3 linked regions of the Homo sapiens genome follow. The protein of the gene in region 3 interacts with the protein of the main gene of each other region in a pairwise test. Each region holds a gene or a part of one and is shown on either strand. Other genes may lie near its edges.

Region 1 (3,657 bases), on a different chromosome or scaffold from region 3:
GAATTTTCCACATGCTCTCAGTTCTGCTGTTTACTCTGTTGGGAGTGTGAGCATGTGGCTATCTTCAAATACTACCAGATTTAGCTTCCTTAATATGTCCCTTGGATGTTCAAAAGTCTGTTAAGTGCTCTTTATTGCCTACTGTAAGAGGCAATAAAGAAATCCAAACTCAGAAGCCCAACCTAAAACAATATACATAGGACCTCTAAGACCTACTCCAGAGATCTTCCTTACAGCAAAATTTAGGCAAAAACCCCTATCCCCGAAGACTGGTCAGGAAATAACATGAACTAGGGTCAAGTAGTGTCTCAGGGCTTTTCTGAGACCCTACTCAAGGACGGACACGCTGCAGCCAACATAGCTAGATTTATTTTCCCCAAAGAACTGTCTGTTTAGAAATGTGGGGAGAGCTATAAGGCTCCATCCTATCTTAAAACAAACCAACAGTTTAAAATATTTTACACTTTAAAACTAGCGACTGATACATTCTGGGAAATTAAACAGCATAAGGATTTCTCTGTTCTAAAATATATAAATGCAGACCGAAAAGAAGCATGAGGAGACTTTCCAGGGTGTTGACAACATTTCATATTCTGGGTGCTGGTTACATAGGTGTGTGAGTTTGGTAAGATTTACTGAGCTTCACACTTAACGCTCTATGTACTTTTCTGTATGTATGCTACACTTCAAAACACATTTTATAATGTGCTTTTACTATTAGCTGAAAGGTGGGGGAATATTAGAAGGGTACTCAGCTTTAGAAATACAAAAAATAAAATCTTTACAATAAACTTTCAAATTGTCAAGATATTTTATTAAGTTTCAAACATGATTTTTGTTAGACCTCGGCTAAGTAGGGGGAAAAGGAGACTCTTTTAATTGAATCATCTTACTTGAGCTCTTCTCTTTCCTTCTGACAATTTCCAAGGAAGTTTCCAAACTGGCATGAATGAATATGCTCATGGATCTGAAGAAGAAATGCTTCACTGAATTCAAAGGCTTGTGGAAACTGTTCGGTCAAATGCCACACACATTCCAAGAACTGAGTAAACACTGGTGAGACTTCCTTTGGGTCACCATCCAACTGGCCACACCTAACCCCACAGAAAGTATAAGCTTTTAAAAACACCTCTGAAAGGTCCATTGTTCAGGTATTGTTAATCTTAAACATACAAAAATATTCCTAAAGCACTGTTACATTAGCATGCAAAACTAGAATTTTTATTGAAACCATTTATGAGTTTTTAAACCACAGCTTTAAAGGATCTGTTACCATCTCTAAATAAAATGCAGCCCAAAAGGAAGGTAATAAATAGTCATGAAAATTAACAAGCGTACTAGAATTGAAAGAAATTACAGAAAAAAATTAAATGTCTTTACGTAAAATACAGTAAAAACCATGACACTCTTACCTCCCATCACGCATGTGAGTTCATAAGGAACAGAAACATTTTGGCATTCTAAACTTGGTTTACTAATTTTATAAAATATATGACTGTGTAACTGTGACTCACCTCTCTGAAAATTTATGTCCAAAAGAGATCCAATCCTTTTCTATTAAAACCTTAATGAGAAAAAGTAAAATTCACTTTCTGACTACTTTCAATTATTTTGTTTAGGCTGGATTAAATCTTATTAGTTTAAAAACAGTATTTACTGTACACTTTTAACTTATAAACAAAACAGCACAAAAAACCACAGGCAAAAGAATGCCAAAACCTTGATTCGAGGTGGGGTTAAAGAAGAATAAAAATGCATAAAAAGAAATAGAGTAGTTTCGTGACTTAAATTATTTCCGTTGAATTTATTACATTTTAAGTGAAAAGTACATGTTATAAAGCAGTATTACATTTAAGTTTTTGTATGTATGAAGATGATATATCATAGGAAAAAGGCTAGAAAAATGTAAACCAAAACTGCTAACAAAGGATAACTCTAGGTGGTAGACTGAGGTGGATATTTTAAAACTTTTGGCTTACTTGTACATTTTTTATATTATTTATATACTACTTTTTTTAAGAAAAAAAAACTAATGATAAAAAGACCAATTATTTTAATCAAATCATCTTACTTGAGTTCATGTTCAGATCCAAGTGTTAACATCTATCCTCTTGAATGGACTGACTTTATGTTTTCCTTGCCACAGCTTCTCTACTTACCCACTCCACTGTAAAAACAGATTTCTAACTTTTTCAGTCTAATCTAAACACATATTTGTAGTATTTAGTACACTTTATCACTTAACTATACAGTCACCAAGCACATTATTTTCATAGTGTCAAAACTGCTGGTTTTAGCTTCTCTGATTTTGTCTCAAGCCTCTGCTTTCCGCAGAAGGCTATACACTGATGTGGCTGAGGATGTAGTCGCTGGAGCTCAGGCACAGGCTCCAATCCCAGCTTCACCACTTTGTGTGACCTTGTGGCTGGAGCCACAGATTTTATTCTGGTCTCTCTGCCATTCTTCTACAAAACCATGTTTAAAGCATAACTCAATATCTTTCTCACTAAATGTATTCTTTGGCTTATCTCAGTGAAGAGCCAGAGAGCAGCACCATCCATCCTGGCACCTAATTCAGAAACTTGGAAATCATCCCAGAGGAAGACTCCTCTCTTCTATCCCACATCCAATCCATGATCAATTCTTCCTGACTCTACTTTCTTTTTTTTTTGAGACAGGGTCTCACTCTGTTGCCCAGGCTGGAGTGCAGTGGCGCAATCTTGGCTCACTGCAACCTCCGCCTCCTGGGTTCAAGTAATTCTTCTGCCTCAGCCTCCTGAGTAGCTGGGATTATAGGTACACATCACCATGCCCGGCTAATTTTTGTATTTTTAGCAGAGACAGGGTTTCACCATATTGGCCAGGCTGGTCTCGAATTCCTGACCTCATGATCCACCCGCCTTGGCCTCCCAAAGTGCTGGGATTACAGGCGTGAGCCACTGCGCCCAGCCACTGACTCTACTCTCTAAACATCCCTGGAACCCATCACCTCCCCCTTCACTTGTGTGTTACTATTTTAGTTTGGTAAAATTAAAAACTTTTGTCTCATAAGTTATCATAATAGTGTCTACACTCGCCTCCTAGCCTCCATTCCCACTCCCTTTGGCCTTCAAGATACCAAGCCACCTTTTTAAAAAGCACATCTAATCAAGTTACTGTTTGCTTGTTTAAAACTCTTTAATAGCTCCCATTATCCAAAGAGGGGAAAGCCCCATTCCAGCCTTCTCTTTCTCAGGCCCTGACCCCACTCTATTCCTCTGCCTCCAAGCCCCCTATTCTAATACTCACTCTGAACTCCATCCATCACACATTACCTGCAGTCACCCAAAGAGGTTATGCTTTGATTTACACTGTTCCTATTGCCTGGGAAGCTCTCACATCATCCCCATTTATTACATGATTTCATTTGGATGTCTAACAAATAATTAAAGCCAAACATGGCAAAGAAAATATTCCTTATCGTACACTCTCAAGGTAAGCTGAGCATTATTTTCTTATTAGCAGCACTCCCGCTTGGCCTGTCCCAGAGTCGGTATGTTAGCAGCAAAAAATAGCGGTGCTGAAAAGGGACTGGTGATTTTAAATCTTCCTTTGCTTTAAGATGGCACTGTATTTAATAATTCAAGACTAATGAAAATTTTCTAACATCTCTTCATT
Region 2 (2,995 bases), on a different chromosome or scaffold from region 3:
GCATCTCTGCAGTTGGACAGGCTGTCCTGCATGGGGACAGCCTTGTCCTGCTGTGGCCCTTCCCCCAGCCCTGACTCCCTGCTTGAGCCACTATGGGCACCGGGCTCATTACACACTTAAAAATGCACATCTGGCCACATAGAGATCCCCTTAGAACGCCCAAGGAACTGAGGCTCTTGGAAACACGTGTGTGTGGGAAACGCACAGACACGCACGCCAAAGAGCATCCAGGGCAGGCGCCATGCACGGACAAACACACATGTGTGCACAGACATGGGCCTGTCTCTGCGCTCCCCACACTCACTGTCTGGCCCCAGGACTATAGGAGGGTTGGGGGGTCCCCCTCTGGGTTGTAGCCTCCTCTGGAAGCCCCTCCGCTGGATCCAGAGCAATCCTTCTTCAGGTTCTCCTCCCACACTCTGGAATCCTCCCCCAGGCATGGATGGACAGCTGTGGGCACAGAGGCAGCCACCACTGGCCCCAAGACACTTGCAGGTCCAAGGCTGCACTGGCCAGACCTCCCCCAGATCCTGTGGTCAACCTCCCTTCCTCCATCCACTTCCCCAGCCAGAGAGGAGCCGTGCAGGACAGAGGACACAAACCATGGACCTCTGGACATCTTCCATTTTATAGAAAGGGAAATTGAGGCCAGGGGTTGGGGAGGCCTGGCAAGGAACATGGTGCATGGTAGGTGGCAGAAGGGACCTCTGTGCTCAGAGCTGTGCCTCAGGACCCATCGTTCAGATGGGAAGACTGAGGTTGGGGAGGTGTGTCTTGGGTTAGGAAGCTGGGCTCGGGGCAGGGGTCAGCGCGGGCATGGCAGGCACGGTGAATGTGAACTTCTCAGTCTGGACAAAGGCAACGCCCTTCTCATAGTAGGCAGCCTCGTTAATGAACACGGGGTACACCGTGGACTCTCCCTCATAGAGCAGGTCCTCCCCACTGAACATCTGGAAGATGGGAGCACCAGGCTGCAGTGGCTGGAAGTCTCGGTCCTGGGAGGAGAGCCAAAGGCCAAGATTGCTGGGGCCACCTCTGCCCTGGCCCCAGAGGGGGGTGACCCCAGCTTGACACCCAAAAGATGCCCCTCATTCATGGCTTTTCCCACCCATGCTTCACTTCCTTAATCCATATGACAGCAGGTCTGGTGAGATACCAGTCTGCTCTGTGTCTAGAAATGAAGACACAGGTCACCTTGGGGTGGCATGTGCCCATGTGGAAGTGGACCCTCATGGATACGGGCACAGGTATTGAAGCTGGAGTTCAAATTCTTGCTAGCTGTGTAACTGTGAGCAAGTCACTTAACCTCTGTTTCTCAGCTTTCTTGTCTGTAAAATAAGGATTACAATATCTCCTCCTATCATTCTGAAGTTTAGACTAAACAGGTTAATAGTGCTTACAGCAGTGTCTGGCACACGGTAAGTACAATATGATTCTTTATTAAATAAATTTTGGCTGGGCGCAGTGGCTCACGCCTGTAATCCCAGCACTTTGGGAGGCCAAGGCGGGTGGATCATGAGGTCAGGAGTTCAAGACCAGCCTGGCCAACATGGTGAAATTTCATCTCTACTAAAAATACAAAAATTAGCCAGGTGTGGTGGTGAGCGCCTGTAATCCCAGCTATTCGGGAGGCTGAGGCAGGAGAATCGCTTGAACTCAGGAGGCGGAGGTTGCAGTAAGCCAATATTATGCCACTGCACTCCAGCCTGGGCAACAGAGCGAGACTCTGTCTCAAATAAATAAATAAATAAATTTTAAGCCTGGGCACAGTGGCTCATAATCTCAGTGGCCTGTAATCTCAGCACTTTGGGAGGCTGAGGTGGGCAGATCACTTGAGGTCAGGAGTTCGAGACCAGCCTGGCCAACGTGGTGAAACCCTGTCTGTACTAAAAAGACAAAAATTGGCTGGGTGTGGTGGTGAGTGCCTATAATCCCAGCTACTGGGGAGGCTGAGTCAGGAGAATCGCTTGAACCCAGGAGGCAGATGTCACAGTGAGTTGAGATCGCACCACTGCACTCTAGCCTGGGCAATGAAGCAAGATTCTGTCTCAAAAAATAATAATAAAAAATAAAATAAATTTTAAAATTGTAGGAGGAGCCACCCAAATTGACTGTTATGACTGAACGTCTGCAAGGTAGCTGGGCACGGCTGGATTAAGACTGTCTAGCCCTAAACATGGACGGGATGGTGCTGCCTCCATTTGTAAGAAGGTAACTCCTCAAAATGAAACTTCAGGGCACAAAAGGCCACAAGATTGCACCAGACCCTATTCAACAATGACCCCCTGTGGCAGCAAGCAGAGCAGCAGCCAGTACGTTCTTCTCAGGCACCCAAGGGAAAGGTGTGGAAGCAGGATTGCCTAATCCTGGAACATTCAGGAAGGGAAGGCCTGCAGAGAGACATACTGCCAACATGCATGGGGATGCTCGAGGAACCAATTGAAAATCAGAAGAGAGTTTTGTATTTGCACCTCCAAGCAGGTGAATTGAGTCATGCCTGCTCCATGTCCCCTCCCTCTGCCTTTTACAGCCAGGGTAGGGTTGTCTCCATCATGCCCTCCACAGGAGCTATGGGGATCACTGTGGCCTCTTGTGCTAGGCCTGAGTGTGGGGTTCCAGGGAAGGCAGCAGGGCCAGGGGAAGTGGGATGGCGGAGCCCAGCCTCCCATCCTGCTCCTCAACCCGAGATGCTGGTGAGCTCGTGGGAGGCTTGGCTGCACCCCCTGGGGCTCAGTTTTCCTTGACAATCCTCCTCCCCAAGGCTGTGGCCCCAGAAATCACCCCCCACCACACACACACACACACACACACACACCTGCAGCTGAGGATGCACAGTGCCTGCCAGGTGCCCGGCCTCGGTGCGGGGGAAGTCCACGACGCCCACGGGTCTATAGGCTTCCATCTCAAAGGCAGGAAAGGCCGTACCTGTGTGGGAGGCTGGGTGTGTGAGCCCATCCCTCCCTCCAGGCTAGGGGACAGACTGGGCCGTGGGGGT
Region 3 (2,727 bases):
TCACTGCAGCTTCCAACTTCTGGCCTCAACTGATCTTTCTGCCTCAGCCTCCTGAGTAGCTGGAACTACAGATGTGCACCATGGTGCCTGGCTTTACATTGTATATTAACTAATTTAGTCCTCAAGACAGCGTTACAAGGTACGTGAAGAATAGCCCAGTTTACAAACAAGATTAAAAAAGTAAAGCAATTTGCCCAAGACTTTGTCTCTAAATATATATATACACACACACACACACACACACACACACACACACACACACACATACTTGGAATTGTGCTGAATTAAAAATTCAATTCTGCAGTTGCAGTAGTCACATTTCAGATGCTTAATAGCCACATGTGGCTAATGACTATTGTATTCCCATCATTGCAGAAAGTTCTACTGGACAGTACTGGTTTAGAAGCAATTTGCCCAAAGTCTCCCACTACTATGTGGCAGAGCTAGGATTCCAGTGTAGATTGCCTGGTTCTCAACTACTCTGTTCTTGTCTCTGTGTGTCCTCCTGTCCGACCTGGGAGACCAACAGCCCTGGGAAGACAGAGAGGGGACACCCACTCATGACTCACCCTTAGTGCTGATGCCCCGGAGGTCGGTGATTTTCATTAGCATCCTTGGGAACATGTAGGGCTGGCTGGGCCGCCGGCGCCGGGCGTACAGCCTCAGGGCTTCCAGCAGTGGCTCCTGCAGCTTGTCCACTTTTTCGGGCTCCTCCAGGTCCATGCGGTCTATGGGGACAAGTATACTGGAGTGAGAGGGGAAGGAAGAGATGGGGAAGACACAGTGACAGATGGCTGATCACCAACCGGCGTTTTGGGAAGCCTGTACAGGGTTTCAGAACTCTCTGGATGGGGCCAGGTGCAAGAATTACCAGCAGAAGAGACCACTGGGTCCTCCACGCCCCCTCCCAGACAGATTCCGCATGGAGTGGTGGGAAAGGAGACTGAGCACTGAGCAGACGCCAGGGGGCGCCCCCGCACCTCCGCAGATGAGGCAGATGGCGCTGAGCAGCCCTGTCTCGGTGTCATCCATCTCCAGGGGCAGGAGCTGCCCAGCAAAGGCAAAGACAAGGTCTGTGAGGGGCCCGAAGCCGGCATTGTGCATCTGGGTCCGGTTCAGGGTCAGCCCGTCGGAGAAGGTCATGGTGTCCTGCTCTGGGGTGTACCTTGTGCAGATACGCAGCATCTGGAGGTGGGGGGTGGAGGAGGGTTAGTGCTGTTTCTGGGGGATGGGGAAAAGAGGGAATGAGTGGAAAGTGAGGAGGTTAGGTCCCCAGTGAGTGCAACCTGAAGCAGGCATGGAGAAGGCAGAGGTGGAGGATCTGAGGCTTGGCAGGGGTAGTCCCGGGAAGTCAGGAGGAGACAGGGCATCCAAAAGTCTAGGATCAGGTCATAGGGGCAGAGGCTAAGACGAAAAGAGAGCTGAGGAGTCCCACATGTGTGGCAGGGGGTGCAGGGTAAGGAAATCTTTGCATGGATCAAGGAATTGTTGAGGGTCCCATATGTGGGTCGGGCTGTGGCAGGACCCACAGGGCCTAACTTACCAGGATATCTAGGCAGGCAGCTTTGAGCAGAGTGATCTGGTCAGCAATGCTGAGCCCTGTAAAGCCAGGCAACCGCTTGGCAAACTCCACGATCTTGATGATGCACTTGGTAGCCAGCTCACTGAACTTGTCCCACAGCCCCAGATCCAGCTGCACGCGGTGGTCTGCACTGGAGTTCTGCAGAGGGGAGGGGTAGAAGGTTGGAAGGCAAGCTAAGGCCCACCTCTGGGGGCTGTCTTCTCTCTACCAATATCCCAAGCTCTCTCCTCTGCATTCTGATGCCCTCCTTGTCCTCAGCACCAGTCGATGATAGCCTCCAACACAACCCAGCCCCATTCCCCAAAGTGAAGAGTGCCCTGCCCTCACTGGGCTCTGCCCATTCCTCACCGTGGTATACTTGCCCAGCTGGCAGAGCGAGGGGAAAGTCTCCTGATGGGCTTTGCTGACCTTGGTGATGAGCTCTTCTAACTGAGGGCTCAGCTCATAGCTGTCAGGTGACCCTTCTTCCTTCACCTCTTTCTTCTTCTTGTTCCGGTCATTTCGCACAGCTTGTGGGTGGAGGCGCAAGGAGAGGGTCAGGACCCTCAGAGCCTCCCTTTGGGTGTCCTCTCTCACCCTAATTTAATATGCTCAGTCCTTATCATGAATATCTATTCTCTGGCACTGTAATTACTGCCTCAGTTTCCCTATCACCTATAATAGCTCCTATTCCCAGGCTGGTTCTCCCCAGCCCCACCCAGGGCCTGCAGCCCCTGCTCCTTCCCCAGGCCATTCGGCTCCATCCTGTCCTTCCTGTCACCCTGCAGGAGCTGGGGGAGGGGGGGCAGGATATGCAGGCGGCAGGATATCCACTTATAGCCTTGGCAGCACAATGGGGGCGAGGGGGGGGTGGAGAGGAGGAGCCACCCCATATCCATCTCTGGCTCAGTCCAGGGGAGGGAAAGGGACTGGCAAGCCCACTGGCTTCATTTCCCCCATGAAACAGGGGGAATGTGAGACCCTACTTATTCACCCATTCAGAGGAAGAGTCAAGCTCCCTGAGAGGGAGAATGGGAAATGGTGGGGCCTCCTGGTTGAATGGAGCTAATCAAATAAGACTGGCCTGGGAGAAGGCAGCACCCCAGGGCAGGCCAAGTCTCAGAGGTCAGGGAAGTGGGAGTGGCCAGAGGAAAGAGGGCCACAGC

The links.
Region 1: the proteins of RARG (region 3) and MTMR6 interact in a two-hybrid assay, tested with the Homo sapiens proteins (one large-scale study listed by BioGRID and IntAct).
Region 2: the proteins of RARG (region 3) and ACY3 interact in a two-hybrid assay, tested with the Homo sapiens proteins (one large-scale study listed by BioGRID and IntAct).

Annotation. Positions count from the first base shown.
Region 1 is NC_000013.11:25,252,871-25,256,527, forward strand, and holds part of MTMR6 (phosphatidylinositol-3,5-bisphosphate 3-phosphatase MTMR6), read right to left. Parts: intron 2,203-3,657; coding exon of another isoform or gene 2,152-2,202; exon of another isoform or gene 1,579-2,151; intron 1,565-1,578; coding exon 1,515-1,564; intron 1,095-1,514; coding exon 894-1,094; intron 1-893. UniProt on the Homo sapiens protein: Lipid phosphatase that specifically dephosphorylates the D-3 position of phosphatidylinositol 3-phosphate and phosphatidylinositol 3,5-bisphosphate, generating phosphatidylinositol and phosphatidylinositol 5-phosphate.
Region 2 is NC_000011.10:67,641,945-67,644,939, forward strand, and holds the end of ACY3 (N-acyl-aromatic-L-amino acid amidohydrolase (carboxylate-forming)), read right to left. Parts: intron 2,926-2,995; coding exon 2,816-2,925; intron 996-2,815; coding exon 780-995; 3' UTR 611-779; downstream 1-610. UniProt on the Homo sapiens protein: Plays an important role in deacetylating mercapturic acids in kidney proximal tubules. Also acts on N-acetyl-aromatic amino acids.
Region 3 is NC_000012.12:53,212,516-53,215,242, forward strand, and holds part of RARG (retinoic acid receptor gamma), read right to left. Parts: intron 2,092-2,727; coding exon 1,931-2,091; intron 1,721-1,930; coding exon 1,544-1,720; intron 1,186-1,543; coding exon 981-1,185; intron 729-980; coding exon 570-728; intron 1-569.